5 separate regions of the Homo sapiens genome follow, and regions 1, 2, 3 and 5 are each reported to be linked to region 4. Evidence: microRNA targets listed by miRTarBase, many of them from high-throughput screens and not tested one by one. Region 4 holds a microRNA gene; each other region holds the end of a gene's coding sequence.

The links. The annotated mature microRNA hsa-miR-5699-5p reads UGCCCCAACAAGGAAGGACAAG and lies in region 4 at 3,831-3,852, opposite strand. An mRNA with a match to its seed (bases 2 to 7 or 8) in the 3' UTR can be bound and repressed. Matches are read on the target gene's strand: a 7mer-m8 pairs with bases 2 to 8, a 7mer-A1 pairs with bases 2 to 7 and ends in A, and an 8mer does both.
Region 1: the mRNA of NUP205 is a reported target of hsa-miR-5699-5p. The part of its 3' UTR that is shown has no 7-base or 8-base seed match.
Region 2: miRTarBase lists EFNA1 as a target of hsa-miR-5699-5p. Seed matches in the 3' UTR shown: 7mer-m8 at 583-589 and 7mer-A1 at 1,070-1,076.
Region 3: miRTarBase lists NHLRC4 as a target of hsa-miR-5699-5p. Seed matches in the 3' UTR shown: 7mer-m8 at 4,220-4,226 and 7mer-A1 at 4,070-4,076.
Region 5: miRTarBase lists CEACAM19 as a target of hsa-miR-5699-5p. Seed matches in the 3' UTR shown: 7mer-A1 at 4,262-4,268.

Annotation. Positions count from the first base shown.
Region 1 is chr7:135,646,688-135,652,864 of GRCh38, forward strand. It overlaps NUP205 (nucleoporin 205), which reads left to right. Exons shown (of 43, transcript NM_015135.3): 43 at 1,717-2,066. The coding sequence ends at 1,869. It also overlaps the pseudogene LOC124901801 and the pseudogene LOC101027084. Among named protein-coding and RNA genes, the nearest start is that of STMP1, 13 kb to the right of the region's middle.
Region 2 is chr1:155,133,554-155,137,553 of GRCh38, forward strand. It overlaps EFNA1 (ephrin A1), which reads left to right. Exons shown (of 5, transcript NM_004428.3): 3 at 1-15; 4 at 177-227; 5 at 402-1,346. The coding sequence ends at 514. SLC50A1 (solute carrier family 50 member 1) reads left to right here and starts at 2,299. Exons shown (of 6, transcript NM_018845.4): 1 at 2,299-2,438; 2 at 2,746-2,823; 3 at 3,275-3,398. The coding sequence starts at 2,359. RefSeq lists an enhancer at 1,740-1,829 and a silencer at 2,100-2,339.
Region 3 is chr16:566,801-572,977 of GRCh38, reverse strand. NHLRC4 (NHL repeat containing 4) reads right to left here and starts at 5,973. Exons shown (of 2, transcript NM_001301159.2): 1 at 5,903-5,973; 2 at 3,483-5,507. The coding sequence starts at 4,930. The coding sequence ends at 4,559. It overlaps PIGQ (phosphatidylinositol glycan anchor biosynthesis class Q), which reads right to left and starts at 3,010. Exons shown (of 11, transcript NM_004204.5): 1 at 2,882-3,010. RefSeq lists enhancers at 1,169-2,063, 5,649-5,698, 5,647-6,177 and silencers at 2,694-2,913, 2,984-3,143.
Region 4 is chr10:637,918-644,094 of GRCh38, forward strand. It overlaps MIR5699 (microRNA 5699), which reads right to left and starts at 3,861; the gene lies at 3,772-3,861. The region is part of intron 1 of DIP2C (disco interacting protein 2 homolog C); the gene reads right to left. LOC124902361 reads right to left here. Exons shown (of 1, transcript XM_047426106.1): 1 at 1-6,177. RefSeq lists an enhancer at 1,805-2,711.
Region 5 is chr19:44,681,722-44,687,898 of GRCh38, reverse strand. CEACAM19 (CEA cell adhesion molecule 19) reads right to left here. Exons shown (of 8, transcript NM_001127893.3): 7 at 5,279-5,332; 8 at 3,544-4,462. The coding sequence ends at 4,409. It overlaps LOC107985306 (a long non-coding RNA gene), which reads right to left and starts at 2,861. Exons shown (of 3, transcript XR_007067268.1): 1 at 1,669-2,861; 2 at 1-1,056. RefSeq lists an enhancer at 2,508-2,802.

The sequences.
Region 1 (6,177 bases), not on the chromosome of region 4:
TACAGACACCTGGTTTGAACTCTAGCTTGACCATTTTAACAGCTATATGACTTTGAACAACTTACTTAACTTCCGAGCCTCAATTGCTTCATCTAAGAAATAGGAGGATTCAACCTCAGAGGGTTTTGTCAGAATTAAGTGAGGTTTCATGTATGTGAGGCTGCTAGTGTTGTACCTAGAACATGGTAAGCATTCCGTGATTGGTAGGCATTATGATCTGGAAACTCCTGATGTCTTTTGATTAGCTTTGTAGAACTTTTTAGGTACAAAGTATCACTCAGCACTTATTTTTCAGGAAATAATTTAATGGTGAGATTGAGAGCAGCCAATACAAATCCCGCCGTCATAGACCATAGTACACAACACTGTGCTCTTACTAACCTGTTGATCAGTAGTGTTAGAATGAATGAAGAGTATGCCAAAAACAATTACAATGAAAACCTCATATTAAACTAATAGCAAAGTTATGTTTCTAACAAAGCAGGTATCAGGGTGTGTGATGTTAGGGAAAATGAATTACAGCTAGATCCTCTGCTAGCCATCTGAATGTCCTTAGCCATGATTTGATAAAGCCTCTGCTCCTCCCAAATCCCTCTTTTTGCTATTTTTCTTAAAACAAGGTTGGGAATGAAAGGTGCAGTTACAGCAGCCTCCAAAGCACAGCTTGCTGGATATCATGAATACCACGCTCCCATCCCAATCCAGACTACATTCGCCCCTTAGTGACTTTATAAAAGGAATTCGTTTTGTGGCTAGGCTTGTTTAGGAGAACTAGTGTTAATTGAGGCCATGTGCAAAATTAGCCAAAGAAGATTATTCAGAAGTTTGTTTGTTTGTTTGTTTTGTCTGAGAGACAAGGTCTCACTCCATTACCCAGGCTGGCATGCAGTGGTGTGACCACAGTTCACTGCAGCCTCAACCCCCTGGGCTCAAGTGATTCTCCCGCCTCAGCATCCTGAGTAGCTAGGACAACAAAAATAAATATATTTTGAAGTAATAACTGTTACTATTTCATTTAGACTGCTTTGTGAAAAAGCTAGAAAAAAATGCAGGATTAATAAATAATCTCACACTCTGTGTTGTGATTTTAATGCAAAACTGAAAACAGGTAGATTGATCTAATATTGTACTTAATTTTAGTCTTTTAGTATAACATCAAAAAGATCCATCTGAAACTACATATGCATTCTAGAATATATATGAATTCTAAAGCATATAACAGGTGTATCCCCACATTAATATTTTTTGAAAACAAAAGCATGCAAGTGGGTTTTTAAAAATTGCAAAATGAAGTAAAAAGTAAAAGCTTCTTTCCCACCTACCCTCCTGTCCTCCCTCCCTCCCTTCCTTCCCTGCATTCTCCTTCCCTCCCTCCCCCGCCAGTCTTACTGACTTCTTGTATGGCCCTTCAGGAAATGTTTTTGTGTGTATGTTAGTATATCAGCATCAGCATCAACATTCATTGCTATTTAAAGCAGGTTTTTAAATTTATACAAGAAAAGAAAGCAGGAAAAACATGAGAATTAAACCAAAAAATTCTAAGGTAGAAAATGTGAATGTTTAGTTAATTTAGTAACACATTACAAAAATTCAAAAGTATTTACATTGAAAGAACCACATTACAAAAATTCTAAAGTGTTTTAAATTGGAAGACTTAGAATAAAAGAAATATTTGAGACAACAATTTTAACAAAATGTCTTTTGTGTCACCGCTAGCTTCAGGCTGATGCAATCAACGCTTTTGGAGAATCACTACAAAAGAAACTTCTGGACATTGAAGGATTATATTCAAAAGTTCGATCTCGATATAGTTTCATACAGGCTCTTGTCAGACGTATCCGTGGCCTCTTGAGGATATCAAGGAACTGAGAGCCCGTGCTTATGCTCTTCTATGAGAGAGATGAATTGGGGAGAATTGTCTCCATTTTATAGATTAGTTTCTTTCTAAATTATGACCAAAAATATTTTGCTATTTCTTTCTTTGTATATGGACATCTTTTCTGTAAACTTCTTCCCCTAGTTCCATCCTCACTAGTAAAAAATAAATACTTTTTAAAAAAACAAAACAAATGTATGGTTAATCTTTTGATCTTTTATCTTTTGATCAGCATTATCAGGAATCTAACAAATAAACCTTCAACAGTGGTGATTTTCCCATAGAGATATTATTCTGAATGCCAGATTAAAGGCATAGTCTGAAAATTCTAATTTTTTCACCCTTTGTAGCTACATTACACTATTAACAATATTCAGGGTTACTAAAATATAGCCATGCTCTTATAGAATAGTGTACTCAATACTGTGAAAATGTCTGAAAAAGTCAAGCTTTTTCCTAAAATTATTTAGGTTTTCCTTTTTTTTGTTTTTTTCTTTTCTGCACGTAAGTTGACAATACAATTGTCCCTTGGTATCTGGTGATTACTGGTTCTAGGGCTCCCACGGATACCAAAACCTATGTTTTGGCATGCATGTTCCTTATATAAAATGGCATTGTGTTTGCATATAATATAGATACATCTTCTTGTATACTTTAAATCATTTCTAGATTACTTACAATACCTAATATAATATGAATTCTATATAAATAGTGGTTAATACTACGTTTTTAAATTTGTATTATTTTTTGCTGTTACACTGGTTTTTTCCCCCCCAAATATTTGTGATCTGTGGTTGGTTGAATCTGCAGATTTTGAACGTGGGGATATGGAGAGCTGACTCTACAGTAATTTGTGTTTGTTCCTTAGAAATGATTGTGAAATTTCTCAAATTAATCATCTGCCAATATTTCTCATATAATTAATATGATGGCTATCACTAGGACAAAACATTTACATGATCACCACTCTATTTCTTACCCAGTTGTTTTCATGTTCAAGTAACTACATCATCCGAAACTGCAAATTTCCTTTTCCAGACAGCAATTACTTCAGCCTAATACATAGGAGAGACTGCTGAGAGGAAGTCTTTGCTTTCATTTAGTAACAGAATAAACGCTATAACACTATAGAATAAAATTGATAATTATTCTATAGTGTCATAGTGTTTTTTTGTTTTGTTTTGTTTTTTGTTTTGTTTTTGAGAAAGAGTCTTGCTCTGTCACCAGGCTGGAGTACAGTGGCATGATCTCGATTCAGCACAACCTCTGCCTTCCAGGTTCAAGCGATTCTTCTGCCTCAGCCTCCCGAGTAGCTGGGACTCCAGGTGTGCGCCACCACACCCAGCTAATTTTTGTATTTTTAGTAGACACGGGGTTTCACCATGTTGGCCAGGATGGTCTCAATCTCCTGACCTTGTGATTCGCTCACCTTGGCCTCCCAAAGTGCTGGGATTACAGGCGTGAGTCTCCGCGCCCAGCCTAGTGTTGTTGTTGTTGTTTTTAAATGCTTACAATAAAACTTCTATGGCTTCCAAGCGTTGGTTTTTGGGTTTTGTGGTTTTTTTTTTTTTTTTTTTTTTGGTGATAGGGTCTTACTCTGTCACCCAGGCTGGAGTGCAGTGGCATGATCGTGGCTCACTGCAACCTCCACCTCCCGGACTCAAGTGACTTTCCTGCCTGCGCCTCCCGAGTAGCTAGATTACAGGCGTGTGCTACCATGCCCAGCTAATGTATTTTTAGTAGAGACGGGGTTTCACCATGTTGGCCAGGCTGGTCTCAAACTCCTGGCCTCAAGGGATCTGCCTGCCTCAGCCTCCCAAAGTGCTGGGATTACAGGCATGAGCCACTGCATCTGGCCTTCAAGCATCTTTAAAACATCTTTATCTTAGAGGAAGTTATGCTGTCAGGTTTAAAAAAAGAAAAATATAAAGGCTTTGTCAGTGTTATATTTTGTAATTAATTTACCGCCCACCAGATATAAACATTAGCTGGAAAACATTCTGTTAATAAATAAAAGTCCTGGATGTGAAAGAATAAATAAATGGATCCAAAATGTAGTTACAGTGCATAGTGCTCCACTGGTCAGGCATATGGTTATCTCTGTCATCTGGAGCACAGGTATGAACCTAGAAATGATTAGCAAAGAGCCTAGGCGTGAAATCAAAGCATTTTATAAACTTCTGAAGTATGAAGCCTTCTTAACAGACAAGACATATAGCTAAATTTTGAACTGGGATTTTAGGAGTGAGGAGGTGGTTCTTGCCTGTGTTTTATGTGAGTGAGAGCAAGTGAGTGTGTGTGTGTAGGCAGGGGAACTCTGCTTCTTGTCAGTGACTTCCTCAGATTCCTCTATCCCTCCGCCTCCCCGACTACTGCTGCTGCAGTGGCTGCTCCCTGGGTTGTAGGAAGTGAGTGATAATGATGACGTCGGGGTGGAGAGTGACAAGCAACAACAGAGATTTCAATCTGCGGCTGACGAATGGGCCCATCATAATGCACTGGAATGAAATCGTAGGGACCACATCAAAGGCAGCCTCCAGTTTGTGGGACGCAGTCCCAACACTCCAAGGAGAGAAGGCCATAGAGTATATCCAGCATATGCGAAGGGAAAAACCACACGCCACTGAGATATTGATGACCTCAGCGGCAGAATGCTCTTCTGAAGGAGGAAGTCCGTGCACCGAAGGGGAGGTCAAGTGCCCAGCCACAGGCCAACTATCCCTCCTCAGACAGCATCCTCTACACCAATGCCAAGGGCAGCACCACCTCTGCCTTTGATGGGGGCTCCGACTGCAGCTCAGAGTTGGAGCCTGAAGAGGCCTGAAGTAGGAAGAAACTCCAGATGGAGGCCAGCTGAGTTACTCAGGGCAGGCCAGCAATAAACACTGTCTCCATCATCCTCCTTTCCGTTTCCTCAGAACCATTTGAGAGACTATTTTTCTCTTTCTCCCTTAAAAATTGTTTTTTAAATTTTTATGTAAAAGCTCTTGGGGCCTGGCACAGTGGCTCACGCCTGTAATCCCAGCACTTTGGGAGGCTGAGGCGGGCAGATCAGTTGAAGTCAGGAGTTCGAGACCAGCCTGGCCAACATGGTGAAACCCTGTCTCTACTAAAATTACAAAAATTAGCCTGGCGTGGTGGTGCACGCCTGTAATCCTGGCTACTCCGGAGGCTGAGGCAGGATAATTGCTTGAGCCCAGGATATGGAGGTTGCGGTGAGCCTAGATGGCACCACTGCACTCCAGCCCCCTCCCTACCCCACCCCCCCAAAAAAGCTCTTGTCCTCCTTCCCCATTTCTACTATAACTTAAAAAAAAAAAAAAGTGTTCCCTTCAGGGATTCCCTGTCTCCACCAAGAATTTTTAGACCAAAACACCCTAGCTTGGCAGCTTTTTCTGTGGAGGACAGATGGCCAGCCTGACCTCTGAGCACAGTATCCTGCCCACTCCACCAGCTCCTGCAGCCCTGCCCAGGCACATGCCTGGAGGACACCTGCCCCACCCAGGCTGCCTCCAGGTCCATGCTCACCTCTGTTTAACAGACTTTGAGAATCTGTGAACTGCTCTTAAGAAGATGACTTTAAGAAGATGACTGGGCCGGGCATGGTGGCTCACGCCTGTAATCCCAGCACTTTGGGAGACAGAGGCGGGCGGATCACCTGAGGTCAGGAGTTCAAAACCAGCCTGGCCAACATGGCAAAACCCTGTCTCTACTGAAAAATGCAAAAGTTACCCGGGCGTGGTGGTACGTGCCTGTAGTCCCAACTACTCAGGAGGCTGAGGCAGGGGAATCGCCTGAACCCGGGAGGCGGAGGTTGCAGTGAGTTGAGATTGTGCCACTGCACTCCAGCCGGGGTGACAGAGCGAGACTCTATCTCAAAAAAAAAAAAAAAAAAAAAAAAGATGACTGGTTTGGAGTAATCAGATTTACACTTTCTCCTTTTTAAAGACTTTCTTCTCTTTTTCTAAAAAGCTATTTATCCCTCCAATTGAGTGACCAGATCCTTAAAGAAGTTTGTGGTGTAAAAAAAAGAGGGGTCGTGTTTGCAGCACAGAACCTTTGGCGTGTTTCTCTCCTGCTTCTCAGCCAATTGTTTAAGCCTACGGTGCCAGCCTTAAGGAGGGCTGCATGACACCTGTGGTATGTATTGGAGATGGCAGCAGTGAAGTCGCAGCCACCAGGGAGTGGTCCTTTGGGGTTGGGTAGGGAGGGCAATATTGGGTGATGTAGAGGTTTTGTACTGAGGGCCAATGATGGTGTTTCGATATTTATTTCCTGCTACTGAAATTTGAATCTGAGTG
Region 2 (4,000 bases), not on the chromosome of region 4:
TCAGTGGCAAAATCAGTGAGTGTCAGAGCCCTGTGGGCCTCCTTCCTCCATCTCTATGCTGGGTGCGGTCTAGTGATCTAGGATGGTATAGAAGTCTTGCAGCCCAGCCCACTCATACTTACAGCCCTCTGCCTCTTTGATACAGTACCTGATCTACTACCACTCTTGTCTTTCAGCTCACAGTCCTCAGGCCCATGACAATCCACAGGAGAAGAGACTTGCAGCAGGTGGGTAGCTGGAGCAAACTGGGCCTGGGGCACAGGAAGGGGTCTGCTTGAAGAGGTTGGGTACAGGAGGTGGCTCCTTTACCAGGCTGAGGCTGAGGGAATCCTGTTGGGCTGAGAGCCAGTACAAATAGTGGAGCCACTCACACTGGTGGCCTTTGCCCTCTCACCTTGCAGATGACCCAGAGGTGCGGGTTCTACATAGCATCGGTCACAGTGCTGCCCCACGCCTCTTCCCACTTGCCTGGACTGTGCTGCTCCTTCCACTTCTGCTGCTGCAAACCCCGTGAAGGTGTATGCCACACCTGGCCTTAAAGAGGGACAGGCTGAAGAGAGGGACAGGCACTCCAAACCTGTCTTGGGGCCACTTTCAGAGCCCCCAGCCCTGGGAACCACTCCCACCACAGGCATAAGCTATCACCTAGCAGCCTCAAAACGGGTCAGTATTAAGGTTTTCAACCGGAAGGAGGCCAACCAGCCCGACAGTGCCATCCCCACCTTCACCTCGGAGGGATGGAGAAAGAAGTGGAGACAGTCCTTTCCCACCATTCCTGCCTTTAAGCCAAAGAAACAAGCTGTGCAGGCATGGTCCCTTAAGGCACAGTGGGAGCTGAGCTGGAAGGGGCCACGTGGATGGGCAAAGCTTGTCAAAGATGCCCCCTCCAGGAGAGAGCCAGGATGCCCAGATGAACTGACTGAAGGAAAAGCAAGAAACAGTTTCTTGCTTGGAAGCCAGGTACAGGAGAGGCAGCATGCTTGGGCTGACCCAGCATCTCCCAGCAAGACCTCATCTGTGGAGCTGCCACAGAGAAGTTTGTAGCCAGGTACTGCATTCTCTCCCATCCTGGGGCAGCACTCCCCAGAGCTGTGCCAGCAGGGGGGCTGTGCCAACCTGTTCTTAGAGTGTAGCTGTAAGGGCAGTGCCCATGTGTACATTCTGCCTAGAGTGTAGCCTAAAGGGCAGGGCCCACGTGTATAGTATCTGTATATAAGTTGCTGTGTGTCTGTCCTGATTTCTACAACTGGAGTTTTTTTATACAATGTTCTTTGTCTCAAAATAAAGCAATGTGTTTTTTCGGACATGCTTTTCTGCCACTCCATATTAAAACATATGACCATTGAGTCCCTGCTAAGTGCGAGGCTCTCTGTGCTACAACAGTAGCAACTGGGTTTGAATTTCTTTCTCTCCAAAGAATGTGTGCCCCTCACGAGGCCAAAAGGGTGGGATGTTTCCTCCTCTGAGGGCTGTCCAGGACCGGAGTGCTCCTGACAGCTGTCTCTCGGGTTCTGAGCTGCACTCCACTCTGGAAGTTCTTCCTATCCGACCTCTACCCCACTCCCACTCCGTCACCGCAGGGCTTTGGCATACTACCATTCAGGTACTCACGCTGTTTCGGTGAGTCAGGGAAGCTGGGAACGCCAGCTGAGGCATGCGGCCCCGCCCCACAGCCACACTAGCAGAGACGTGTGGGAGGCTGGGAGGGAAAGTTCCCAGTAACAAGTGGGTTGGACCGGGGGTCAGTGATAGAGGCGTCAGTGGATTGGCCACGTCATGTAAAGTTGACCCGAGAGGGAGGGCAAAAGAGGAAGGCTTGGTGATTCCTGGTAATGTGTTATTTTGAGAAAAAGCTTCGGCAGCACACTCCAGAAAAAAACTTCCCAAACCCTGGGCAACTGAGGTTCTGATGTGGAGCTCTGGATGGAAAGCGTGCTGAAGTCTTGTTAAACTAGCAAGCTTTTGTTTGGAGGTCCACCGCCGAAGGCGCACAGGCCTGTGGGAACACGAGCGTTGAGACTGGGGGCGTCTAGATGATCCAAGGGGTAGGCAGAGTGTGAGCAGCGGCAGGTATCGGGGACACACCCGCGGAGCCCTAGGAAGGGGACTGACCGGGACATGGAAGAGGTCTGGACCAGGGTACTGGGAAGGCGCTCGGAGGAGAGGGGCGCGAGTTCCGGTTCGGCGTCGGAGGGAGGGTGGGGCTTCGGCGCAGTTTCCGGAGGGACGGCCCGAGCGTGCGGGGGCGGAGCCGAGTGCGCGGGGCGGGGCTCCAGAGCCGCAGGTCTGGGCTGCAGTAGGTCCCGGCAACCGCAGGCTCGCGGCGGGCGCTGGGCGCGGGATCCGACTCTAGTCGTAATGGAGGCGGGCGGCTTTCTGGACTCGCTCATTTACGGAGCATGCGTGGTCTTCACCCTTGGCATGTTCTCCGCCGGCCTGTGAGAGTGCGGCCGGGCTGGGTTGGGGAGGACTAGGCAGTCAGGAAAGGAGAGAGAGGGGACAGAGACGTGGCCACAGCACCTGGCTCGTCCGGAACCGGGATCAAAGTGGGATCGGGTCGAGGGGACCGGGGTACAAGGGCGAGGCTGGTCACTAGGCCTGAAGGAGAAGGCAGGATAGCTGGCGGGGGGGAGAGGGGGCGGGGTCTGCGGTGGTCCGGAAAGGATGACAGGCATTGGGCATCCCCCTCTAGCACTCTGCTTCTCCCTTCCCACCCCCACCCCTCCCTTCGGGGCCCCATTACAGCTCGGACCTCAGGCACATGCGAATGACCCGGAGTGTGGACAACGTCCAGTTCCTGCCCTTTCTCACCACGGAAGTCAAGTGAGGGGCCGACGGCTGCGGTAGTGGGAAAGGCTACCAGAGGGAGGTGGGGGCGGGGCAGGAGGAGCAAGAGTGAAAGAGGTTTGGCCGGGCGCGGTGGCTCACGCCTGTAATCCCTGCACTTTGGGAGGCCGAGACGGGCGGATCACGAGGTCAGGAGATCCAGACCATCCTGGCTAACACGGTGAAACCCCGTCTCTACTAAAAATACAAAAAATTAGCCGGGCGTGGTGCCGGGCGCCTGTAGTCCCAGCTACTCGGGAGGCTGAGGCAGGAGAATGGCGTGAACCCAGGAGGCGGAGCTTGCAGTGAGCCGAGATCGTGCCACCGCACTCCAGCCTGGGCGACAGAGCGAGACTACGTCTCAAAAAAAAAAAAAGAGTGAAAGACCCTTTGGGTCCTCCTCTCACACTGAACCCTTTGAGCCATGTCCATCCCCTCCACCCTGCAGCAACCTGGGCTGGCTGAGTTATGGGGCTTTGAAGGGAGACGGGATCCTCATCGTCGTCAACACAGTGGGTGCTGCGCTTCAGACCCTGTATATCTTGGCATATCTGCATTACTGCCCTCGGAAGGTAGAGGCCCTCCCTTGGACCCACCTATCTGCTGCACGCCCTGCCTTGCTGGCAGGGCAAACACTATTTCCTAGAAGACTGTAACAGCTGGCACTGCCACCTTTTCCAGGAAGGCCTCTCCAGCCTTGCAGGTCCCCTTCCTCTATGAAGCCAGCCTTCTGAGATGAACACATTGCCCCCATTTAGGCAAGGCTGGTAGCTCTGCCTAGCCTGAGATGCCTATGCTGCCTGCCCTGGGCTTCAGCCAACAAGCTAAGGGGAAAGGGCTTTTGTCTCTGATATTTCTTTCAGAGCCAGGGCCTGTGGGTGAGAATGAGATGATTAGCTCTGCGTCCCTGCTAAATCACACAAGCATTTATGAAGCTCCTACTGTGTGTGCCAAGCACACAGAAAAAAACACATATTTATCTCCCCCAGAAGTCTCCAGTGTTGTGGGTGGATAAGACTTTCCTATCAAGTTGGTGGTGGGAAAGAAGCTGTGACAGTGCAGTGCTGGAGGCCTAGACAGCTTGGCTTCCCCATTGGAGCACTGGAGAAGGCAGGATGAATTAACTCTAGCAGGGAAGTCAGAGTGCACATCTGGAAGTAAGGGTACTCTCTCC
Region 3 (6,177 bases), not on the chromosome of region 4:
AGAAAGCCCCATCTCGCCTGCACGAAGAGTGGAGCGGCCACCCTGAGCAGAGACCCCCCACGCTGGAGCCACACTCGAGGGAGGGACATAGCTTGGCCTGAGCCTGGGTCTGGAGGTCCCAGCGCCCACCACGCCCTTAGGGACGAGGGAACAGAGCGGGACGCCTGGAGGTCGCAGTGCCCACCACATCCTTAGGGACGAGGGAACAGAGCGGGACGCCTGGAGGTCCCAGTGCCCACCACATCCTTAGGGACGAGGGAACAGAGCGGGACGCCTGGAGGTCCCAGTGCCCACCACGCCCTTAGGGACGAGGGAACAGAGTGGGATGCCTGGAGGTCTCAGAGCCCACCACGCCCTTAGGGATGAGGGAACAGACCAGGATGCCTGGAGGTCTCAGAGCCCACCACATCCTTAGGGACGAGGGAACAGAGCAGGATGCACACGTCGGGGTGGTGTGACCTGTAAGTCCTCTCCCGAAGCTTGGAGGGGCTCTGGAAGAGGCCTCACACGGAAATGCCTGGGGCTTAAGAGGCCCCTGGTGCAGCTGCTCTCCTCCCCTGCAGGCAGCCCGCACTGGGGCTGGAGGATCCAGTCACTCAAGGCGGTGGGTTCTAGCTGAAAAGGGACCTTCTGGGTCAGGCTGCAGAACTCCTCAAATGCCCATTTCCTCAGTGGTCAGAGAGGGCAGGCGGCGGGTGGATGCCTGGAGGCCAGCTGACGTGAGGCACCAAGGACATCGTGAGAGGGACAAAGTGATTCTGCCTGCAAGGGGCCCAGCGTGTCTGGCTGTGTGACCACCATAGGGGACCACCCAGTACAGCCCACCTTTCACACCAGCTCAGCCCAGGGACCCATCACGCCCTGCTGGGGAAGAGCTTTCACAGGGACTAAGGAAAACTGCCCACAGATATCGTCGGAAAAGAAACACAATGGGTCTAACAGTAAACAGATGTTCTAGGGGGAGCTGGTTCTGCGGTGGGCTCACTTTGGGTAAATTCACCGAGCTACGTGCTCACGATCTGTGCGCTTTCTTTGTGTGTATTCTTTGTGCTTCATCTACAAAGTTTACCTTAAAAAAAAAAAGTGCCTTGTGTCTACCGAAGGAGATGGGAGGGCAGAAGCTACTCTTCTCTGTCGAGTAGTGAGAGAAAACTCAACGTACTGTGGGGCAAACGCCCATCACACTCCCACCTCAGCCTCTGGGACGGTCGGCGGCACAAAGAAGCCTGCACTAGCAGCTGCTGGGATCACACAGCCAGAGGAAGATGAAAGAGAAGCGATCGATAGCAGAGGAGGTATGGGACGGGAGAAAGCAACGTGAGCATCTTTAAAGACTGAGGAAACACACACACACACACACACACACGGGCGCCAGGCTAGCCACACACACACACACACACACACACGGGCACCAGGCTAGCCAGACACACACACACACAGGCGCCAGGCTAGCCAGACACACACACACACACACACACACACACACACAGGCTAACCAGACACACACAGGCTAGCCAGACACAAACACACACACACACACACAGGCTAACCAGACACACACAGGCTAGCCAGACACACACACACGGGCACCAGGCTAGCCACGGGTCCCAGGCTAGCCAGACACACACACACACACGGGCACCAGGCTAGCCATGGTTGCCAGGCTAGCCAGACACACACACACACACGGGCGCCAGGCTAGCCACACACACACACACAGGCTAGCCAGACACACACACACACACACAGGCTAACCAGACACACACAGGCTAGCCAGACACACACACACACACACACGGGCGCCAGGCTAGCCACGGGTGCCAGGCTAGCCAGACACACACACACACACACGGGCACCAGGCTAGCCAGACACACACACACACACACACACACACACACACACACACACACACACACACACACACACACACACACACACGGGCGCCAGGCTAGCCAGAAGAGCTTCCTCTGCTAAGAATGAGCCCGAGTGCTCTTGAGAAGCCATTCCCAGACCAGGCAGGTAGGGAGGTCGACCATATAAAGTAGTAAGACTAAGACTTCCCTCTCCTCCCCGTGAATGAGGGAATGGGGGCACCCCAGCCCAGTTAGGACGGGCCAGGGCCATCTCTGGCTGAGCCGCCCCTCCCTGCCACCGCTCCACAAGAGCTCTGGAGAATTTGCGTTTCCCAGCGCCTTGTTTGAAAAATAAACACCAACCTGGCGCGGTGGCTCACGCCTGTAATCCCAGCACTTTGGGAGGCCGAGGCGGGCGGATCACTTGAGGTCAGGAGCTTAAGACCAGCCTCGATGGGGGTGAAACCAAGTCTCTACTAAAAATACAGAAATTAGCCGGGCGTGGTGGTGGGCACCTGTAATCCCAGCTACTGGGGAGGCTGAGGCAGGAGAATCGCTGGAACCCGGGAGGCAGCGGTTGCAGTGACCCGAGATCGCGCCATTGCACTCCAGCCTGGGCGACAGAGCGAGACTCCCTCTCAAAATAAATAAATAATGAAAAACAAACACGAGTTCAGCCTGGGCAACATGGTGAGACCCCGTCTCAAAACAAACAAACAAACAAACTTGCTTGCCTTCCTCAAGCAGGGCCTTCCCCTCTCATTTGGGAAGAGCCTACGATTCCGTTTTTTGCCCTTTCCTGCAAACCGGGACAACTGCGAAGGGCCCACAGCCAGGCCCGGGCCGCCGACCGCCCTTGCACAGGGTCCACAGGGGCCCAGGTCGGCGCGGGCCCGGGGGCGGCCCCACTTCTGGGAGGAGAAAGCAGCGGCGCCGCGGGCGGGAGTGCGGAGCCCCCAGCCCAGGCCCGGAGCCGCAGGGGCGCTGCCCGAGGTCCCGCCGCGCGCCGCCCACCCCCCCTGCTCACCGGGTGCTTCCGGGGCCGCGCGCTCGGGCGGCGGGGTCCGGATGGGGTTGGGGACCCCGATGGGCGGGCCCGGGCAGACGACGGCGCTCGCTGCCTCCAGCCCCGCCGCGGGACCCGAGCCCCACTTCCGCCGGCTCCGCGCGTTGCCGCGCGACGGTCCGGCCCCCAAAGGCGCCCGGGCTGCCCGCCCGCCCGCCCGACCCGAGCGTTCCGCGGCGCAGCGTGCCCGCCCAGTCCCCAGGCCCGGACCTCCCGAGCCTGCCTCCGGGCCGCCAGCCCCGCGTCAGCTCGGTTTCCTCACCTGAGAAACTGACTGGACCTGGCCTTCGTGGAACCCGGACCCCGCCTGGCTCCCAGCCTCCCCAAGTGAACAGGTCCCCAGGCCCTGCGGGATTCCAGGAAGGCCCCAGCCCCAGCCCGGTCCCGCCCCCGTCACTCTGTTGTCTGCAGAGGGGCCGCCCCCAGATCCCCAAGGCCAGTGGTGCCGGGAATTTTGAGCCCTGGTAGGACCAGCCCAGAGGCTGCCGCCAGCGATCGTCAGGAGAGAACACACAGGCGTCCAGCCCCTCCCGATCCCAGGAACAAGACCCCAGCCCAGACCTCAGCGGCAACTCCGTTTATTGAGCACCTAACTACATTGCGCAGTTAGTCCCCCACCCACAGGACCCAGACATATGAGGGACCTCTCAGGGGGGATGTCCTGTGATACAGGGGAGCCCCACCTCCCCACCCCACAGGGGTAGAGCCAGACACCGTCCCCTCCCAGCTCCCTCCCCCATACAGGCCCTTCCCTGGACCCCAGACCCACGGAGTAACCCAGACGCCTCTCCTTTCACGCCTCATTTCCCCACTTGTAAAATGGGAGGAGAGGGTTAGACCCCTATTTTTTCTCAGTTTTCCAAAGCAGCAGGAGTCTCTCCTTGTAGGAAGCTCCCCCAGACCCTCCCAGCACGGCTGCACTGGGAGGACAAACAGCATGGAGCTGTTTGTCCCTGTCTGCAGAATGAAGGCCCAGACAGCTTTCATTCATGGGGACGCGGAAGAAAAGGCATCCAGGGTTCAGCCAGCCATGGGCCTCCAGACACTCCAGGGTTGCCTCCCCCTTACCTCTGCCAGGCCCAGAGAAGCTACTGGAGGCTCAGGACTCTAGGTCCCTCTGAGGTTGGGGACATTTAGGGGCCACACCCCTGCCCCAGGCCGCCCCGCCCAGCCCAGCCCAGCCACACCCTCCCTGCCTGTCTGCCCCCGATTAGGAGGCCTGGGCAGGGGCACCTGGTGGGAGAGTCTGCCTAGCTGTGTGCCGGCAGCTGGCCCAGGATCTCAAGGCTTCAGCTGCCAGCCCCAAAGTCCAGGCACAGGGCCTGAGGGGGTGTGGGGGGCATGAATGCAGGGGCCAGGGCACTGAATGGGGACAGCAGAGAGCAGCCCTGGCTGGGGAGGCTGCAGGCCTGGCAGGGGCAGCCTGGGAAGCAGACTCAGGGCTGCTCCTGAGATCCGGAGCCTCACCAGCAGGAGAACTCGAGCCAAGCCCAGGGCCCAGCCCAGGTGGTGCTGGCATCAGGCAGGCAATGCCCATAGCCTGGAGGCTCCACCCATCCTGAGGGTTCCTCCCGCGGTGATCCAAGGGCCTGGGAGCTGGCCTCAGGCACAGGAGGGCTGCTCCAACCCAGCCTCAGGTCAGGCCAGCTCCTTGAGGCCCTGGTACACCTTGATGGAGTTGTCCTTGGCATCAGCCACCAGGAGCTGGCCCTGGGGTGCACAGGCCACTCCCAAGGGCTGCCCAAGCCCCTCTGACACCAGGCAGATGGGTGGCCCAGCCCGGGGAAACAGGGTCACCTGGCGCCTCTGCTCGTCTGCCACAATAACATTGCCCTCTGAGTTGGAGCAGATGCCCGCTGGGCAGCCGAAAGTGTGCCCCGTCCAGCCCCCCAGGGAGCCCAGGGGTTGGCGGGCACTGCCAAACAGCCTCACATCCCCAAACTCCTCACTCACAGCAAGGCCCCCATCAGGCCCTGGGCCCACCCAGCAGGGGCCCTCCAGACCCAGCATGGAGGCTGGGGCCAGGGGCTCCCAAGCAGGACCCAACGAGAAGCTGTGCACAGCCCCAGGCAAGTAGTCCGTCACCAGGAGGCGGTTGAGGGCATCCACAGCCAGCCCTCGGGGAGACAGGAAGGTGCCCACTGTCACCCAGTGGCCCCCGGGGTCCCGGGCTGTGTGCTGGAGTGCATGGACAGCCCCATGGATGGGATCGCTGACCACCACAAGCCCTGACGCTGTCACAGCCACGTCCTCTGGAACGAAGGCCCCGCTCCCCGGAGTGCGGCAGGGCAGGAGGCAGATGGGGCGTCCCTCCAGATCTAGCACGTGGACACAGGGTGCAGCCCCGGCCGTGAGGAAGAGCAGGCCATCGGGGGAGCAGTGCAGGCCCCGGGGCCCTCCCACAGCCCCTGCGGGCACCCGGATCCACCCAAGCAGCCGGAGCTGCCGGGAGCCCGTGGAGTCTCCAGGTGGGTCCAGTGTGAGGTGCAGACACCTGGAGGCCAGAGTCCAGTCAGTCCGAATCACCGTCTCAGCTTCTCTGCAGCTGGGTCACGCTTGGGGCTGCAAGAGAGAGAATAAGGCCCCACTGTGTGTGGGAATGGCAAAGTCACTCCTCCAGTTTCTTCCTATGAGGCCGGGTCCTCCTGGTCCTGAGGGTCTACCTGGCCACCAAGCCCAGCGGCCACCCTAGTGTCTAGGTGCCTGGGACTTGAGTCTGGGAGACACATGACCCGTGGAGCTCGCTGTGGGTTTTCCCCTGAGCCCCAGATGAGCTCATGGGCCTCAGACAGATAAGCAACATTTCTCAAATCCATCTGCCTGTGGAACCCCTTTCTACGGCGGGGGGGCGGTCACCCACACACAGCCCTTCTACCCGAGCCCCTAGGTCAGGGAGACTTCTGACCCCTTAGGGGCGAGGCAGCCTATTCCGAGGGCCTCCACCTGCCCCACCGAGAGAGGCCGGGGGGAGGGGTCTCTTACCTGGGCCCTGTCTCGCTGGGCCCTGCTTCGGGGCTGGGTGGCTGCAGCCTCTGTTGTTGGAAACTAGAACTGGAGGAAGTGGGAGGAGCCACTGGCAGGGACGCAGCTGGGCCGGGTGGAGGAGGGAGAGTGCAGTCTCCGGCCTTGGCCCCTGAAGCTTCTATGAAAGAAAAACCAGGTCCCCTGAGGACTCCCCATGCTGTGGTGTTCCTGCCTCCGCGCCTTGTTGCAGGCTGCGCCCTCTGCCCGGACACTATTCCCACGTCCCCTACACG
Region 4 (6,177 bases):
ACCAAGGCAGAGCTGACTGAGAGACACAAGCTCATCCATTAAGACAAGCCAAGACTCCTGCCCAAGGCCTAATCCCTCCACCAGGGAAACGTGGAAGGGCCAGATGCCTGGCAGCCCTTCCTTCCTCTTCTGAAGCCCCCGAGACACAGCCCCGGCCAGGTGTGTGCCTCGGGCAATGCACAGGTAACGTCAGCTGGGCACCGAGTCTGAGAACATGTTCTCAAGTAAAAATGAAAACAGGACTGCTGTGAAAAGCTCATGCTTAATCACCTCTGGGCTAAATTCTAAATGCAATGTTATTTCAGAGCTAGGTGGAAGTAATTCCTTAAAAACATATATGAACAGTAACTAGCAACCAGGGTGATAAGTACTCAGTATGTGTTTGATGAATAAATGAATTTTTAAAATTTATGAAAAGAGCACGCTCTATTTAGGAGAATTCTATTTAATTTGATCTCCTAACTATAAAGTGGCTCCTTCGTGCTGACAGCAGGGTTTGCTTCAGTTGACTCAAAAAATGGTCACTCTAACAGGAAACCAAAAGGCTTTACAGAGAGTCAAATTATGGTGCCAATTCAACTGTGCATGGCAATTTCACCTAAATATTTAAATTCTCGAAGCACCGTACTCAGAAAACAAGACATAACATAAATAAGTGCATCGCCTCAAGCACTATCACCTAGAACTTGACAAAGTTTGACTGTGAGTTTCAAGAAAAGGGCTGACGAGGCCAAGAAGTTCCTTCCCCTCTCCCCTTACCTCCCATTTTGGTGACAAACTTAATGCAGAGAAATTCCTGTTTCAGGTTTGCCAGCATTGGAGCAATCCTGGCATTTATTCACCCAGGACACTAGAAGGCTGAAGTCTGCAGGGTGCACATATTTAAAATCACGGGAGCACTGGAGTAATGGAAAGAGGTGCCCGCGAAGGCATCATCCTTTCCAGGACAGGCTCTAATTCCGCCTCCGGGCCCTTTTGCAAAAAGCCATTTCTACAAACCCACGGCCACCAGGAGGAAACACACAAAAGACCCCACTGCCCTCCTGGCTTCCCAGAAGGCCTCAGAAGGACGAGACACGGAGCCCGCACACAATCCTGGACCCTCCTCCTTGCATTCAGTTTGATGCATGTCACCTGCCTGCATGATGGAGGTCCCACAATGGGCACAAGGGGACCCGTCAGGTCGGGAGGATGCTGCCCGGCTCACAGTCCACACATGGGGACGCGTCAGGTCGGGAGGGTGCTGCCCGGCTCCCGGTCCACACATGTGGACGCGTCAGGCCATCAGGGTGCTGCCCGGCTCACGGTCCACACATGGGGACGCGTCAGGTCGGGGGGTGCTGCCCGGCTCACGGTCCACACGTGGGGACGCGTCAGGTCGGGAGGGTGCTGCCCGGCTCACGGTCCACACGTGGGGATGTGTCAGGTCGGGAGGGTGCTGCCCGGCTCACGGTCCACACATGGGGATGTGTCAGGTCGGGAGAGTGCTGTCCGGCTCACGGTCCACACATGGGGACGCGTCAGGTTGGGAGGGTGCTGCCCGGCTCACGGTCCACACATGGGGATGTGTCAGGCTGTCAGGGTGCTGCCCGGCTCTCAGTATCAGCCGCATATGCACATTCTCCACTGAAGCCACTGCATGAAGCCACGCTGGAAGCACTTTCTGGCAGGTTTAGGAAGCTCACGTCCAAGGTCATTAAACGCATGGCAAGCTCGCCTTGGAGGCATTTTACTTTGCTAATGACAACGAAGCATTCTCATTGCACTGAATAGTTTAGAGCAGTCTTTCATGTCCACTGCCTCTTTGAAATAGGCATATTGTGCCTGTTTTACAGATTACATCAAGGCCCTAATATATTTAGTTCCTTGTCCCAGGTACACACAAATCAGCGACATCACTAGAACGTGTTTTGGACCACGAAAAGAAGGAAAATCACAGCATTATCCATTGATGCTGCTTAAAGCGTATTTCCAGATGTCCCTCCCCCGCCCGGCCTGTATCCAAGGCTTCCGCTGACCACGCGGCATCTGCTGGGCACTCTGCGCGCTTTCTCCCACACCCGCCACGCCTGTGGGCCTGTGCATGTCCCTCCACGCATCCCCACGCGGCTAAATCTCCCACACCCGCCACGCATGTGGGCCTGTGCATGTCCCTCCACGCATCTCCACGCGGCTAAATCTCCCATACCCGCCACGCCTGTGGGCCTGTGCCTGTCCCTCCACGCATCCGCACCTACCACGCGGCTAACACACACCTCCCACAGGTGGCAAGTGCCTGAACGTCCCCACGGCTGGCGGGGCTCCCGGTGCAGGACACACAGACAGGCACGGCCGCCCCGCCCACGGCCACCAAGGGCTTTGCTTTGTCCCCAGAGGTGCCCTTCGATGGGGTCACACGGCAGATGGCCAAGTGTTAGATAATTAAGGCTCAGGAAATCACCGCAGCCTTACCTTTAGAACTCACCTCTCCCCTGCACTTCAACCCGAAGGGTGGGTCGCCAGAGCTGGGGAAGAGATGCCCAAGGCTCCCTTGCGCCCTGACAGCCTCGGACTCTGCTCCCCTCTGTTGGTTTCTTACTGCACCTCAATAAACTTAGCTCACAGCAAGAGGCGGGCATGGCCAGAGTAGAAACACACGACAGACCCCGGGTAGACGCGACGGGGGACGAGGGTGCGTGCCGGGACGAGGGTGCGCGCGGGGAAGAAGCTGCGCGCGGGGATGAGGGTGCGCGCGGGGAAGAGGGTGCGCGCGGGGATGAGGGTGCGCGCGGGGAAGAGGCTGCGCGCGGGGAAGAGGCTGCGCGCGGGGAAGAGGGTGGGCGCCGGGAAGAGGGTGGGCGCCGGGAAGAGGGTGGGCGCCGGGAAGAGGGTGCGCAGGCTCCGAGAACCTGGGGGCAGCAAGGCCGGTCAAGGCTGGAGACTCCAACAGTGGCAGCAGCAAGGGTGTTGGCCAAGCCACAGAGACAGCCCCACCCAGAGGGGCTGCATGAACCAGCAGCGACCCTAACCCAACGTGCTCATCGGACTGGGCACACGCACACGCTGTGGACACGTGTGAATATGTTCCAATTAACGTGATGCTACGTAATAATCAACAACGTTAACCCCATGGCTTCATTACATGGCATCTGGCACATTGAGACTTTTTATTCTGTCTCTCTTCCTATACAAAGAAGTGGAAAATAGGTCCAAGATCATTCACAACAAATTATTGCTAATTGCAAAAAAAAAAAAATCCTACCCTCACCTTGGAAGATCTCAAGGCAACACCTCGTTCTTTGAGGTCATAGTGGGGACGCTCTCCGGACCCCTAGGTGAGTCTGTGACTGAGGGGAATCCCCAAATGGGCAGTTTTGGGGCCAGCACGGACGCCAGCCATGCATCCAGGCAGGTCTTGTGACCTCGGCTGGGTCACCAACCTATTCCTGCACTCAGACCCCGCCAGGAACGAGGGCACCGGCCCGCACATCTCTGCTCCCGAGGCTACATCCCCTACGTTCCTCTGCACTGCTGGGTTCCATGCCTTAGATCCCAGGCACCTTAAAGCTGATGTTCCCCCACCAGCCCTCATGAAGATGATACTCACACAACGCCCCTCCTCTCCCACCTGGTCAGTACCCAGGGAGAAAGGAACCCGGGTGTCAGCTTGATTTTCTGCCAGTACATTGAAAAAACAGCTGGCCAGCAGCACTGGTGCACAGCACTGCCAGGCTACCCATGAGGAAAGCTAAGTAAAGTCAGATGTACTCAAGTCGGCTGCGGCAAGTGCTTCTACATCCCTGCTCCAACAAGGAAAGACAGGAGGCCAGGCGTGTGTGTGGCTCACACCTCTTGTCCTTCCTTGTTGGGGCAGGGGTACAGAAGCATTTTGGGGGGCTGAGGCAGAAGAAATGCTGGAATTCGAGACCAGCCTGGGCAACATAGCAAGACCCCATCTCTACAAAAAAAAATACAAAAATGAGCCAGGTGTGGTAGCGCGCCTGTAGTCCCAGCTACTCAGGGGGCTGAGGTGGGAGGATCACCTGAGCCCAGGAGGCAGAGGTTGCAGGGAGCCAAGATTGCACCACTGCACTCCAGCCTGGGCAACAGGGCGAGACCCTGTATCAAAAAAAGGAAAGAAAGAAAGAAATACAGGAGACCACTAATAATTCCAAATAGTGCCTACTAATTTGAAATCTTTTCCAGATATGATGAAGGAAATTATTTTCCTTCCTACACCCCTTCTAAGGAAACATTTCTATTTTTCTGCTACACAATTTGGTAACCTGCCCTTTCAGATCCTGGCCTCTTTAAGCAGGACTCGCTGGTGTGCTAGCAAAGCAGTGCTCTGAAACCTCAGCATCCTCAGACCCACCTGGAGGGCAGGTGAAGGATGCTGGGCCTCCGCCTCCTAACGTCACACTGGGGTGGGGCAGGTCTGGGGTGGGGCAGGGTTTGCACTTCGAATGCATTCCAGTCTAGGGCCACATCGCCCTAAACACGCCCATCTCATCTAATGCATGCCAGAGGGAGGAGCCACACGGGGCAGGTCACAGAGCAAGTGTCCAGGCACCAGGCCACCAGGTGTCTATTTAAATGCAAACCAATCAAGCAGCTTAAGTCAAACAGCTTCACCCTCCTAACACATTGGCCAACACAACTAGTGATAAATATCACTGCTGTTAGACCTTCTGCTCACTGATGACCAGAGCAAGGGCCTGAAACATCAAAGCTGAAGGGCGTGTGCCACGGTCAGGGCTCCGCACACCCCCGTCCCAGGCCATCGCACACGGGTGCCCTCACCGGCACCGGGGTCTCACAGACCAGCTCCACTCTCACACTTACTGGGACACAACCACCCTTTCAGCCCTTCATGCGTCTGTACCCTACAGCAGTGTTCAAGGGAGGCTAATTTAAGAAAGGAATGTAATATGGACATCTGTGAACTCTTCCTCATATCCACTGAGTGGTCCTCCAGAAAGAGAAAGATTAAAAAGAAAAAGAAGATTTAAGAATCAAACACAGGGCCGGGCACGGTGGCCCACACCTGTAATCTCAGCACTTTGGGAGGCCAAGGTGGGCAGATCACTTGAGGCCAACAGTTTAAGACCAGCCAGACCAACATGGCAAAATCCCGTCTCTACTAAAAATACAAAAATCAGCCAGGCATGGTGGCACATGTCTGTAATCCCAGCTACTTGGGGGCTGAGGCAGGACAACGGCTTGAACCGGGAGGCAGAGATTGCAGTGAGTGGAGGTTGCAGTGACCCAAGATCGCGCCACTGCACTCCAGCCTGGGCAACAGAGTGAGACTCCGTCTCAAAAAAAAAAAAACAGGCCGGGCACGGTGGCTCAGGCCTGTAATCCCAGCACTTTGGGAGGCCAAGGCGGGTGGATCATGATGTCAGAGATCGAGACCATCCTGGCTAACACGGTAAAACCCCGTCTCTACTAAAAATACAAAAAAATTAGCCAGGCGTGGTGGCGGGTACCTATAGTCCCAGCTACTGGGGAGGCTGAGGCAGGAGAATGGCACGAACCCGGGAGGCGGAGCCTGCAGTGAACTGAGATCGCACCACTGCACTCCAGCCTGGGTGACAGAGTGAGACTCCATCTCAAAAAAAAACAAAAACAAAAAACAACACAGAAGCCCGTGGAACAAGCCCTTGCCCCAGTCCACGTCACCTGTGCTGTGCCACCCAGGAGCATGCCAAGCTCAAAGAGTCATCCACCTGCCTTGATGTCACTACTCGAATCACAGAGGCTGAGATTCCCTAACCCTCGTTATGTCCATGTCACTCACAAGCAGGCACTGGGCCCCCACAATGCACAGGGAATCCCTCTGGCCATCCAATGACCATCCATTGATAAATAAAAAGCATTAATTCCAGCTGGGTTGCAGAGTTGCACACATCAATACTTGTTACTGTTCACAAATGTTCCACCTGAGGGTGGAGTGAAGTTACAGAATTGGGAAGAACTTCACAGACGTATGAGGGTGTATTTAAGGAAAAAGTGTATGGAAGAGGTGAGAAAATAGAATATCCTAACCTCTGTCTTTTTATCACCCTCTAAATCCTATGATTCCAGTTCTGTTCATTCTGCAGTGAAAAATAATAAGTGATTCACACTCAGACACAAGGTGGCTTAGGAAGCTGCGGCTGTTTTAAAAAGATGAAACAATCTAGAAGGTCAGGA
Region 5 (6,177 bases), not on the chromosome of region 4:
TAATACAGCCATGCGTCACTTCATGATGAGGATATGTTCTGAGAAATGAGTCTTTAGGCGATTTCATTGTTGTGTGAACATCACAGAATGTGTTTACACAAACCTAGATGGTAGAGCCCGCTACACATCTAGGGTATAGGTACAGGCTATTGCTCCTAGGTGACAAACTTGCATAGCCTGTGGCTACATTGAAAACTGTAGGCAATTGTAGCACAATGATAAATATTCGTGTACCTAAACATAGAAAAGATACAGTAAAAATACCGTGCCGGGCGCGGTGGCTCACGCTTGTAATCCCAGCACTTTGGGAGGCCGAGTTGGGCGGATCACGAGGTCAGGCGATCGAGACCATCCTGGCTAATACAGTGAAACCCCATCTCTACTAAAAATACAAAAACTTAGCCAAGCGTGGTGGTGGGCGCCTGTAGTCCCAGCTACTCCGGAGGCTGAGGAAGGAGAATGGCTTGAACCCAGGAGGTGGAGGTTGCAGTGAGCCAAGATTGCGCCATTGCACTCCAGTCTGGGCAGCAGAGTAAGACTGTCTCAAAAACAAAAACAAAACAAAACAAATAAACAAAAGAACTCATTCGTCTGTTCATGGGCATTTGGGTTATTTCTACCTTTTGGCTATTGTGAATAATGCTGCTGTGAACAGTCACACAGAAGTGTTTGTGTGGCCATGTCTTGATTTCTTTTGCAAACCTGGCCCTGTCGCAGTGTGTACAACACCCCTGCTCCCCACCCTCCCATTGCTCGAAGCAGTCACCCAAGAGTTGACCCTCTCCAGCACCTCTTAAGCATGCCCGTTCCAGTAGGTTCTTAGCACCTGCTCCATTCCTTCACAGCATCGTCATCCCTGACATTATGTTCCATGTGCTTTGTTTTTCTGTGGCCTGTCTCCCACTAGAAGGTCAGCTCTCCAAAAGCAGCCATCACTGTCTCATTCATGGCTGTCTCCCCAGAACCTAGAATAGGGCTGTCCACAACAGATGCTCAATAAATCTTCATTGAATTGATGAACAAACCAATTATTGGCACACTCTTCTCTCCAATCCCCTGTATCCAAACCAGAAACAAATTCTGTCAATGTTTTGTTCTAGAGTGTTGCTCTGTTGCCCAGGCTGGAGTGCAGTGGCATGACCTCGGCTGAATGCAACCTCTGCCTCCCGGATTCAAGCGATTCTCCTGTCTCAACCTACCACCACTCCCGGCTAATTTTTGTATTTTTAGTAGAGACTGTATTTCAGCATGTTGGCCAGGCTGGCCTTGAACTCCTACCTCAAGTAATCCGTCTGCCTTGGTCTCCCAAAGTTCTGGGATTATAGGCGTCTGCCACCATGGATTTCAGTCCTCCTGTCTGCAGAGCCAGGAGTTTGAGACCAGCCTGGCCAGCATGGTGAAACTTGTCTCTACTGAAAATACAAAAAAAAAAAAAAAAGTAGCCGGGTGAGGTGGTGTGCACCTGTAGTTCAGCTACTTGGTAGGCTGAGGCAGGAGAATTGCTTGAGCCTGGGAGGCGTAGGTTGTAGTGAGCTGAGATCGCACCACTGCACTCCAGCCTCGGCGACAGAGCAAGACTCAAAAAAGAAAAGTCTCAAAAAAGAAAAAAAAAAAAAGAGAGAGAAAAGATGGAATCCCCTCACACTCCTAGCCCTGAGCCCTGGCTACCTGGCTGGCTTGGTTGACCCTCTTAGCAAGGCGGTCAAAGGCCCAGGCATTTGGTGTCTGGAGCGGTCTGAGGATGGAGAAGTCTCCCAGAGAGTATTTGCATACTGAGTCAGCATGAGACGCAACTTCTCCTTCTGTGATTTCTTCCTCATCCTCTAGATTAGTTTCCCATTTCCTGTAAAAAATTGCCACAAATTTAGTGGCTTAAAACAACACAAGTTTGTTATCTTATAGTTCTGGAGGTCAAGAATCCAAAATGGGTCTCACTGCACTAAAGCCAAGGTTTCAGCGGGACTGTGTTGCTTTCTGGAGGTTGTAGGAAGAAAATCCATTTTCTTGCCTTTCCTCAATTCTGATTTTTTTTTTTTTTTTAAGACAGAGTCTCGCTCTGTCACCCAGGCTGGAGTGCAATGGTGCAACCTTGGCTCACTGCAACCTCCGCCTCCTGGGTTCAAGCGATTCTCCTGCCTCTGCCTCTCCAGTAGCTGGCATTACAGGCACCCGCCACCACGCCTGGCTAATTTTTCTATGTTTGGTAGAGACGGGGTTTCCCCATCTTGGCCAGGCTGATTCTTGAACTCCTGACCTCAGGTGATCCCCCTGTCTCGGCCTCCCAAAGTGCTGGGATTCCAGGCATGAGCCACCACCCTCGGTTCTGTTTTTTTTTTTTTTTTTTTTTGTAGAGACGGGGTCTTGCTATGTTGCCCAGGCTGGTCTCCAACTCCTGGCCTCAAGCGATCCTCCCACCTTGGCCTCCCAAAGTGCTGGGACTGCAGGCGTGAGCCACTGAGCTTGGCCCTCCTCCAGCTTCTAGAAGTTTCTTGCATTCCTTAGCTCAAGGCCCCCTTCCGTCTTCAACACTCACGATGGCCCATGGACTCTCTCACACTCAATCATTCTGACTCTGAAGTGCTGCTTGACTTTCAGCTCCTTCTCCCGTCTTCAAAGGGCTTTGCTTCCTTTGTTGTCACAGCCCCTCTGACTCACGCTTCCTGTGTCCTTCTCGATTATAAGGATCTGTGTGATTACATAAAGAGCCTGCCAGGGCAATCCAGGATAATCTCCCCAAAGCACGATCCTGAACTTAATCATGGCTGCATTCTTTTGTCATATAACGTAACATTCACAGGGGATTAGGATGTAGACGTCACTGGGGGGCCGTTATTCGCCTTTCACAGCACCCTGCCCCTCAAAGCCACAGTCTCGGCAGTGCCTTACCTGGCCCTGCGCCATGTGCCCCTCCGTCCATCTCCTGACGTCAACTTCCACCCACCTTTTCCTCCTTCCCCACCCTCTCCACCACACTGGCCTCCTTGCTGCTCCTTTTTTTTTTTTTTTTTTGAGGTGGAGTCTTGCTCTGTCACCCAGGCTGGAGTGCAGGGGCACGATCTTGGCCCACTGCAAACTCCGCCTCCCGGGTTCAAGTGATTTTCCTGCCTCAGCCTCCCCAGTTGCTGGGATTACAGGTGCCCACCACCATGCCCGGCTAATTTTTGTATTTTTAATAGAGAAGGGGTTTCACCATGTTGGCCAGGCTGGTCTTGAACCCCTGACCTCAAATGATCTGCTTGCCTTGGCTTCCCAAAGTGCTGGGATTATAGGTGTGAGCCACCATGCCCAGCCCCCTTGCTGCTCCTTGAATATGCCAGGCATGCTTCTGCCCCAGGGCCTTTGCACTGGCTATTCCCTCTGTCTGGAATGCTCTTCCTCCAGAGCCCCACATGGCTCCTTTCTTCCCCTCCTACAAGTCTTTGCTCATTTGTCACCTTCTCAGCGAGGACCTCTGTGCCCTAATTAAAAATCTCAGTCCCCCAATACTCTCGACCCCCCTCCATTTCCCCAATACACTTATCCCCATCTGACAGACAACGCATGTTCATTATTTATTTTATTTCCTGATTCTTTCCCCTGCCAAGTGACCCTCTGGGAAAGCGGGAGTTTTTGTTTTGCTTTCTACCAGGGCTGCAAGAGCCTAGAACTGGGTCTGGCATACAGCAAAGGCTCATTTATTGCTGAATGAATGCATAGTTTGGGGAAGGGGAGGACAAGCTGAGGCCACATTTGGGACGGGTGCTGGGGTGGGGTGGAGAAGGGAGCTGCTGCCCAGAGGGACTCAGTAAGATTCAGGGTGGGGGCCAAGACCAGCAGCTGGCAGCAGGTTCTGAGAGGGGCTGGGCCTGCCTGAACAGGGAAGGGGTCCAGCAGCCGTGGTCACCTTGCTGGGACTGGTGTGTGGGGCCACAGGCCTGTGAGGCTGGGCCTCTCTGCCACCTGAGGCCCGCATGGTGGGGTGTCTGCCTTGTCCTAAGGGGAGAAGACTCTGAGGGTCACTAGTGGAGTTGGGGTAGGGCATTGAGGACAGACAGTTGGGAGCCCAGCCAACTGCCTGGGAGGCAGGCCTGAGGCCACCATCTTGTCCCCAGATATCCAGATCTTGGGGGACTTTGGCATGGAAAGGGGCCAGAGCCTGCCTTTCACAGGCACATGGCCCAGGCCAGCTTGCTTGAAGGAACAGACCGAAGGCGGGCGTGCATTCACGGGCTGCACAAGGACCTGGGCCTGTTACAGTCTCCTGTCCCCCTGCCAGGACACCTGCCCCATGTGCTGCTGAGTCTTTGGCTGAGTCCACCTCATCGGCCCCACAGCCCCCAATGGCCTTGTCCTGCTGGTCTCAGGTGTGAGGCTCCCAGAGGAGGGCTGGGGCCTTGTCTTCTCCCTGGCTGGCCTGGCCCAGGACCCATCAGGAAGTTGGCACCAGCTGGCAGTAGGGGGCAGGGTCGGGGTTTAGCAGGTCCTGCTTGGGGGGAAGAGAGAACAGAATTATGACTGGGTGGAGGGGGAGAGTCTTGGGGAGACAGAGAGGGACAGAGGATGAGAGACAGCGTGAGATGGAGAGAAACCCGCAGAGAGAATGGAAGAGCAAGGTGGAAAGAGAGTGAGATGCAGAGACAAGAGGTCCTGGAAGAGCCAAGAAATGAGGTGGACACAGTGACAGAGACAAAGAGGCAGGAGAGACAGAGAATGGAGAGAGAGAGAGACAGAGATGCAGAGAAACGAAGACATGTAAAGAGATGCATCTTAGACAAGGCAGCATGAACAAACTGGAAACAGAAAGACAGATTAAAAAGGACACAGCAAGAGAAACTGAGAGAGAGAGAGAGAGAGAGAGAGAGAGTCCAAGAAAGGGGAAGACAGACATACAGACATATGTAGGCCACTGAGAGAGAGAGACAGAACTACAGGGACAGACAGCTGACAGGAGGGGATGGAGAGGGACTGAGCTCTGCGGTGGGGTTTCACTGGGGACCTGACTGGCTGTGTGGCCCCAGGCAATCCCCTGTCCCTCTCTGGGCCTTGTTCCTCCTGTGCAAGTTCAAGGTTTTGGATCCCTTTTGCAAAGAAGGAAATTGCAGCCTTGGGAGGAAAAGGGACTTGCCAGGGTCTCTCAGGGAGGCGGTTTGGGCTTCTTCGAGAGCAGAGACCGTGAGGCTTGGGGGGACGAGGGGAGGAAAGCCCCCAGTTTCAGTTGTCTTGACCCCTCCCCACCCCGGCTTCGGGGCTCCTGGATCCGTGGGATCCCCACCACCCCTCCCAGCTCCCAGCTCCATACCTGGTACTGGTGGTTCTCTGGCTCCGCCTGCAGGTGTGGGGGTGTGGGCAGGGGCTGCAAGGGAAGGACACGGGTGAGTGGGCGCTCGGCACCCCCCACCCTCTAAACTTTGACCTTTGGTGCTAGGACAGTCTCAGATTCCAAGTCCCCATCACCCCTCCCAGACTGTGAGGCCCCTGGGCAGAGGGGATTAGCTTCCTTACACCTCAGTGTTCTCCTCTGACAAATGGGCACTGGGCCCCAGCTTCGTGTGGTATCCAGTGGCCCGTCAACCACTCCATTAACTCTCAGTCTACCCCTGTCAACACCTCTGGTTCTAAGCTCTTAGCCTTAGTGTTTTATGTTTCTCTTATTTTTCACTTTTTTAGAAAAAGACAGGATCTTGCTCTGTCACCCAGGCCAGAGTGCAGTTGTGCAATCACCACTCGCTGCAGCCTCAAACTCCTGGGCTCAAGTGATCCTCCCTCCTCAGCCTCCCTGGTAGCTGTGACTATAGGTGCACACCACCATGCCTAGCTAAATTTTTGTAGAGATGGGGTCTAGCTATGTTCCCCAGGCTGGTCTCAAACTCCCGGCCTCAAGCAATCCTCCCACCTTGGCCTCCCAAAGTGTTGGGATTTACAGGTGTAGAGCCATCATGCCCAGCTAAGTTTCTCTTTTTATTTAATCTAAATAACTTTTTTTTTTTTTGGGATGGAGTCTCGCTCCTGTCGTGCAGGCTGGAGTGCAGTGGCATGACCTCGGCTTACTGCAACCTCCACCTCCTGGGTTCAAGCGATTCTCCTTCCTCAGCCTCCCGAGTAACTGGGATTACAGGCATGTGCCATCACACCTGGCTAATTTTTGTATTTTTAGTAGAGACGGGGTTTCACCATGTTGGCCAGGCTGGTCTCAAACTC